2 linked regions of the Homo sapiens genome follow. The protein of the gene in region 1 purifies or fractionates together with the protein of each later gene. This does not show direct contact. Each region holds a gene or a part of one and is shown in the gene's direction. Other genes may lie near its edges.

The links. Proteins that work in one complex are often made in the same cells at the same time.
Region 2: the proteins of THUMPD1 (region 1) and QTRT1 purify together in Homo sapiens (affinity purification with mass spectrometry; 3 studies listed by BioGRID and IntAct, with this or other methods). This does not show direct contact.

What each region holds. Positions count from the first base shown.
Region 1 is NC_000016.10:20,740,410-20,744,161, reverse strand, and holds the start of THUMPD1 (THUMP domain-containing protein 1), read left to right. Parts: upstream 1-2,343; 5' UTR 2,344-2,422; coding exon 2,423-2,653; intron 2,654-3,752. UniProt on the Homo sapiens protein: Functions as a tRNA-binding adapter to mediate NAT10-dependent tRNA acetylation modifying cytidine to N4-acetylcytidine (ac4C).
Region 2 is NC_000019.10:10,704,384-10,708,135, forward strand, and holds part of QTRT1 (queuine tRNA-ribosyltransferase catalytic subunit 1), read left to right. Parts: intron 1-2,918; coding exon 2,919-2,997; intron 2,998-3,116; coding exon 3,117-3,232; intron 3,233-3,752.

The sequences.
Region 1 (3,752 bases):
AATAGCAGATGAATTTTTTTTAATTGCAGAAAAACCTCAGAGTGTTTTAAGAAAGTTTATTAATTTGTGTTGGGCCGGTTGAATTTCAAAGCTGTCCTGGGCCACATGTTGACTGTGGGCCAACAGGTTGGACAAGCTTGATTTAGGCCAAACTTAAATTTAGCCTAAAGCTGCCTCCTCACATATTTTAACAAAACTGAGTTTTTGTTTTTCAAGTTTGCCTCCATATAGTACTCAAATATGCTTGGGACTTGAAATATATATATTTTAACTTGTTATCTGTATGCTAATATTTGATATCCTAAGGACAGGTGGCAGAGTGTGGGCAACTGAAACCCAGCCAGCAGAAGAGAGAGAGATTTGGGGGAAGGCCAATGCCAGTGTCATGACACTGCTCTTCACAAACAACTGAGGACTTCTAGAAATCTCTGCTGTGCAGTGTCCACCAAAGAAATTCTGAAAATTAAATGCTGTATTGAATACACAGGTAAAAGCAAACAATAAGATGATAAAATTTTTGGACATAGTGGTAGATCTGGGGTTAGAACCTAGGGTTTATTGACTGTGAATTCGGTGTCCCTTTCAAAATATCAGATTACATCTTTTAGGGCTTTGTAGGAACTCAAATCTGCTAAGAGGTTTGTACCTGAAGAGTAGTATGAGAAGCACTTGTTTTTTAAACACATTCTTCAAAAGTGGCATCTTCAATGATTTTTAAAAAGACAGTAACATGATAAGTTGCCAAGACTATGGATAAAAGGCCGCAACGAAAGCAGCATGAAACAACACCAGCCAACATCCTTGGTTTTAAGTGAAATAGAAACATAGCCTGGAAAATTGAGGCTGAAATGGAATTTACTGGAAGCCTTTTGAGTAACTGTTCTATGTGGGAAATGCGCGAGGGGAAAAAACAAGACAAAATACGGCCAGGCGCGGTGGCTCACGCCTGTAATCTCAGCACTTTGGGAGGCCGAGGCGGGTGGATCACGAGGTCAGGAGATTGAGACCATCCTGACTGACACGGTAAAACCCCGTCTCTACTAAAAATAAAAAATATTAGCCGGGCGTGGTGGCGGGCGCCTGTAGTCCCAGCTACTCGGGAGGGAGGCAGGAGAATGGGGTGAACCTGGGAGGCGGAGCTTGCAGTGAGCCCAGATCGCACCACTGCACTCCAGCCTGGGCGACAGAGCGAGACTCCATCTCAAAAAAAAAAAAAAAAAATAGACAAACATACAATACCTTTGGGGGTAAACAACCTTTATCCCACGTAAATGGCAATGCAGATATAATAAGCAAATGATATAGTAAGCAAATTGCAATGGGAAGGGGAGAAGGGAAAAAAAAAAAATATATATATATATATATATATTTACACGCACCAGACTATGTTGGATTCATCACCAGACCGGGAAGCAACAGCCTGGGCTCCAGAGTCAGCCACTTGTCCGTGCACAGAGGAGGAGGGGTCTCAAGAAGCTTCCGTGTGGCCTGGGACCCTGGCTCATTTTTTTTTTTTTTTTGAGACAGAGCCTCGCTTTGTTGCCAGGCTGGAGTGCAATGGCACGATCTCGGCTTACTGCAACCGCCGCTTCCCGAGTTCGAGTGATTCCCCTGCCTCAGCCTCCCGAGTAGTTGGGACTACAGGTGCGCGCCACCACGCCTGGCTAATTTTTTGCATTTTAGTAGAGATGTTGGTCAGGATGGTCTCCATCTCCTGACCTCGTGATCTGCCTGCCTTGGCCTCCCAAAGTGCTGGGATTACAGGCGTGAGCCACCGTGCCCGGCCGACCCTGGCTCTTTTTGTAATGCGTTGATTGGCATGAGGCCCAGTCACGAGGGCCCTTCTCGACTGGGCTCAAGGAACACATAAAGGTCAACTTGTTTCTGTGATTGTCTGTTTTTCAATAACTCAAGTACAGGTACAGAGTTATCTGTAACAGTGCTGGATGAATGAATGCCTCAAGGGGCTCATGCAACCTGTTACGGGACTTGACCATTGTGTCCACGTTCAATTGAGTTCAAATTTAATATTTAACTTTTCCTCCACAGTAGCTGGCAGAATTATAGGGAAGGCTGGAGGAACAGGTACCAAGGTTGGGTGGAAGAAGCTATATGGCTGGAGCCAGCTTCAAGGGCTTGAGGAGCCACCGACACCACTTCCAGAATGGCTGCTATGCTGCCTCTACTGGATTCAGGTTGCAGTCGGGAGGCGGGGCAGGAGGCGGGGCTTGGGCGGGTATCACTCCACCCCTTTCACGATTGCAGACCGGCCTTAGGACCTGGCGCAGCACGGAATGAGGCTTCGAGGCCGGCTAGGGGAGGCCGTCGCTCATATCCGACGTCACCAGTTCGCGCCGGCGATAGACGAGGACGCCAACAGCAGCGGAGAAACGTTTCTCTTTCCTCTCAGTTTGCGCACACCATGGCGGCCCCTGCCCAGCAGACTACTCAGCCTGGCGGCGGGAAGCGCAAAGGCAAGGCTCAGTATGTGCTGGCCAAGCGCGCTCGGCGCTGCGACGCTGGCGGGCCCCGTCAGCTAGAGCCCGGGCTACAGGGCATCCTCATCACCTGCAATATGAACGAGCGCAAGTGCGTGGAGGAGGCCTACAGCCTCCTCAACGAATACGGCGACGACATGTATGGGCCAGAAAAGGTACCGGTCCCGGGGTGGGCGGGCGGGCCGGCTGCCAGGCCTTGCGGGAGGAGGGAAGGGTGGAGGGATGGCTGCTGGTATGGGCATGCGCGCCTCGGGTCGTCGGCGTGACGGCTGTAGGGGCGTGGCCTCGCCGGCGTTTCCGTCCCTAGTCCTGAGACGCTCGCAGACTTCGGTGCTATCGGTTTTGTGCTTGAAGTGCTTGCACCTTTTCTTGCCATCAGTAACCACGGTAGCTCCCATTACTTTTATTTTTATTTTTGTGAGACAGGGTCTCGCTCTGTTGCCGAGGCTGGAGTGCAGTGGCGTGATGATAGCTCAGGGAAGCCTCGACTTCTCCTGTCTCAGCCTCCAGAGTAGCTGGGACTATGAGTGCGCGCCACCACTCTCGGCTAAGTTTTGTAAATTGTAGATAAGGGGTCTCACTGTTTGGCCCAGGGTAGTCCTAAACCCTACACTCAAGCGATCCTCCCGTCTCTGCCTCTCAAGGTGCTGAGATTACAGGCGCGAGCCACTGAGCCCGGCCTACCTCCCACTTAAGGATTGCTCATTGAGGGCCAGGCGGTGTGCTGAAGCTCTTTCAGAAACACATTTTTCATGACAGCCTCGTGAAGTTGGAGTAATAATGTGTTTACCTGAAGCAATAATATTTCTGAAATAATAGGTTTACTACTAATGCTAGTTACTGCACTTAAAATACATTTTAGAACGTAAAAACTTTTACCAATATCACCTAAAGTCTTAGTGTTTGGAAATCATATTACTGGCTTAGAATCTGGACCAATACACACACGCACACTGAGGGATTAAATGAAGAAGGGTAATACAGAGGGAATTTAAATTCACGGCTCATCCTCTACTAGCTTGGGGACTCGGACATGGGCACATTATTTGATGCTGCTGAGCTAGATAAAAAAGAGAATACTTTAAGACTGGCTAGTGAGTTGCTTATGTACATAAAATACATACTGGTATGTAATAAAGTTTCTGTAAATGTATACAATTATTATTGTGCCTGACTGGCAATTTCGTTGGGCACTAGGGGGCAGAGAGCTGGGCAACAAGCACATATCCTGTCTACTCCTGTACTTTAAGCAAA
Region 2 (3,752 bases), on another chromosome or scaffold:
CCTGGGTTCATGCCATTCTCCTGCCTCAGCCTCCGGAGTAGCTGGGACTACAGGCACCCGCCATTACGCCCAGCTAATTTTTTTGTACTTTTACTAGAGACGGGGTTTCATCGTGTTAGCCAGGATGGTCTCGATCTCCTGACCTCGTGATTCGCCCATCTCGGCCTTCCAAAGTGCTGGGATTACAGGCGTGAGCCACCGCACCCGGCCTCTTTTTTTTTGAAACCGAGTTTCGCTCTTGTTGCCCAGGCTGGAGTGCAATGGCGCAATCTCGGCTCACAGCAACCTCTGCCTCCTGGGTTCAAGCGATTCTCCTGCCTCAGCCTCCCGAGTAGCTGGGATGACAGGCATGCGCCACCATGCCCGGCTAATTTTGTATTTTTGGTAGAGACGGGGTTTCTCCATGTTGGTCAGGCTGGTCTTGAACTCCCGACCTCAGGTGATCCGCCTGCCTCAGCCTCCCAAAGTGCTGGCATTACAGGTGTGAGCCACCATGCCCAGCTAAAGTTCTAGCTTTTTAATGAATGTCGTAATTTTTTTTTTTTTTTTTGATGTGGAATCTCGCTCTGTCACCTAGGCTGGAGTGCAGTGGCTCGATCTTGGCTCACTGCAACCTCTGCTGCCCGGGTTTAAGCTATTCTCCTGCCTCAGCCTCCCCAGCAGCTGGGACTACAGGTGCCTGCCACCACGCCTGGTAATTTTTGTACTTTTAGTAGAGACGGGGTTTCACCTTGTTGGTCAGGCTGGTCTTGAACTCCTGACTTCAGGTGGTCCACCTGCCTCAGCCTCCCAAAGGGCTGGGATTACAGGCGTGAGCCACCGCACCCAGCCCCATATTTATTTTTTCGTCTTTTCTTTTTTTTTTTCTTTTTTGAGAAGGAGTCTCACTCTTTGACCAAGGCTGGAGTGCAGTGGCACTGTGTTGGCTTACTGCAACCTCTGTCTTCTGGGTTCAAGCACTTCTCCTGCTGCAGCCTCCCGAGTAGCTGGGATTACAGGTGCCCATCACCACACCTGGCTAGTTTTTATATTTTTAGTAGAGACGGGGTTTCACCATGTTGGCCAGGCCGGTCTCGAACTCCTGACCTAAGGTGATCCACCCGTCTCGGCCTCCCAAAGTGCTGGGACTACAGGCGTGAGTCACCACGCCTGCCCCTTTTTTTCTTTTTTGAGACACAATCTCGCTCTGTCACCCGGGCTGGAGTACTGTGGTGCAATCTCGGCTCACTGCAACCTTTGCTTCCTGGGTTCAAGCGATTCTCCTGCCTCAGCCTCCCAAGTAGCTGGGACTTCAGGTGCATGCCACCATGCCGGGCTAATTTTTGTATTTGTTGTAGAGACAGGGTTTCACCATATTGGCCAGGGTGGTCTTGAACTCCCGATCTCAAGTGATTGACCTGCTTTGGCCTCCCAAAGTGCTGGGGTTACAGGCGCAAGCCACCAGGCCTGGCCTGTTCTTTTTTTTTTTTTTTTTTTTTTTTTTTTTTGTGGAGACAGAGTCTCGCTCTGTCACTCAGGCTGGAGTGTAGTGGTGCGATCTCGGCTCACTGCAAGCTTCACCTCCCGGGTGCACACCATTCTCCTGCCTCAGTTCCCGAGTAGCTGGGACTACAGGTGACCGCCACCACGCCCGGCTAATTTTTTGTATTTTTAGCAGAGACAGGGTTTCACTGTGTTCGCCAGGATGGTGTCAATCTCCTGACCTGGTGATCCACACGCCTTGGCCTCCCAAAGTGCTGGGATTACAGGCGTGAGCCACTGCGCCCGGCTGTGGCCTGTTCTTTTTTATTTTAAATTGTTTTCATCTATTTATTTTCTTAATAATGGAGATGGGGTCTCTCTGTGTTGCCCAGGGTGGTCTCGAACTCCTGGGCTCTAGTGATCCTTCCGCCTGGGCCTTCCAAAGTGTTTGGATTATAGGTCATCAAGTTTCATTTTATGCCACTAAACCACTATGCTGTGCACCGTGGCTCATGCCTATAATCTTAGCACTTTTGTTTTGTTTTTGAGACGGTGTCTCGCTCTGTCGCCTTGGCTGGAGTACAGTGGTGCAATCTTAGCTCACCGCAACCTCCGTCTTCCGGGTTCAAGCGATTCTCCTGCCTCAGCCTCTTGAGTAGCTGGGATTACAGGAATATACCACCACGCCCGGCTAATTTTTGTATTTTTAGTAGAGACGGGGTTTCACCACCTTGGCCAGGCTGGTCTCGAACTCCTGACCTCAAATGATCCACCTGGGTTGGCCTTCCAAAGTGCTGAGATGACAAGCGTGAGCCATCGCGCCTGTTTTTTTTTTTTTAACCTTTTTTTTTTTTTTTTAACACAGCCTTGCTCTGTCATCCAGGCTGGAGTGCAGTGGCACAATCTTGGCTCACTGCTACCTCTGTCTCCCAGATTCAAGCTATTCTCCTGTCTCTGCCTTCCAAGCAGCTGGGAATACAGGCACGTGCCATCATACCTGGCTAATTTTTGTGTTTTTAGGAGAGATGGGGTTTCACCATGTTGGCGAGGCTGGTCTTGAACTCCTGACCTCAGATGACCTGCCTGCCTCGGCGTCCCCAAGTGCTGGGATTACAGGCGTAGTCACTGCGCCCAGTCAGCAGAGCCCTGCTGATGGACGTTTGGTTTCCCGGTCTTGCTGTGGCACGCCACATAGCAAGGGATCCCTTTGTATATTTTAGGATTTTATTTTGTGTAACAGGATAGGATTTTAAGCTGGGGAGAGGCAGGATCAAAGGCACATTCTGTAAAGCTCCTTCTGGCTGCTGTATAAACAGACCGGGAAAGTCACGTGGGAGTTAGCAAGACGGGGGATGGGGGGATGCTCTTGGGGAAGTCCAACTTGTCCCCATGTGACGGCAGGCTTTCCCCAAGCATTGCGGGCTTTCCCAGTGATGTTGCCCCCATCTCACCATCAGGCTCGGACATCATCATGCAGCTGGACGACGTGGTTAGCAGTACTGTGACTGGGCCACGTGTGGAGGAGGCCATGTACAGGTGTGTATATGCTGTGTGCATGTGTGGGATATGTGGTGGGAGGGGATCCTGGTCCCTGTAGCCTTGTCTCCTACCCCCTCACCAGGCCCCTGGGGCTTGTGACTGGGGCCCTGTTGCAGGTCAATCCGCTGGCTGGACCGGTGCATTGCAGCCCATCAGCGGCCGGACAAGCAGAACCTCTTCGCCATTATCCAGGGTGGGCTGGACGCAGATCTCCGGGCCACCTGCCTTGAAGGTAGAGCCATGCGCTGGCAGGCCCAGGGCTTGGCCATCGCGGAGGTCCCCACATGGGCCTGGCGTATGGCGGGACTGGATTGCTAATGTGTAGAAGGGCACTGCGCTAGAAAAAATAGCCGGAGCAAAGGCTCTCGGGCCACGTGCAGTAGAATGTATTGAGAGAATGGCCATGATTCCAGTAGTTAATGATCTTCTAGGTTTTTTGTTTGTTTGTTTTTGTTTTTTTTTTTGAGACGGAGTCTCAGGTGATCCACCCCCCTTGGCCTCCCAAAGTGCTGGGATTATAGTCATGAGCCACCGCGCCCAGCCTATTTATGTATTTATTTATTTTACTTTTTTTTTTTTTGGAGGGTGGAGTCTTGCACTGTCGCCCAGGCTGGAGTGCTGTGGCGCGATCTCGGCTCACTGCAACCTCTGCCTCCCTGCAACCTCCGCCTCCCGGGTTCAATCTATTCTCCTGCCTCAGCCTCCTGAGTAGCTGGGACTACAGGCACCCGCCACCAGGCCCGGCTAATTTT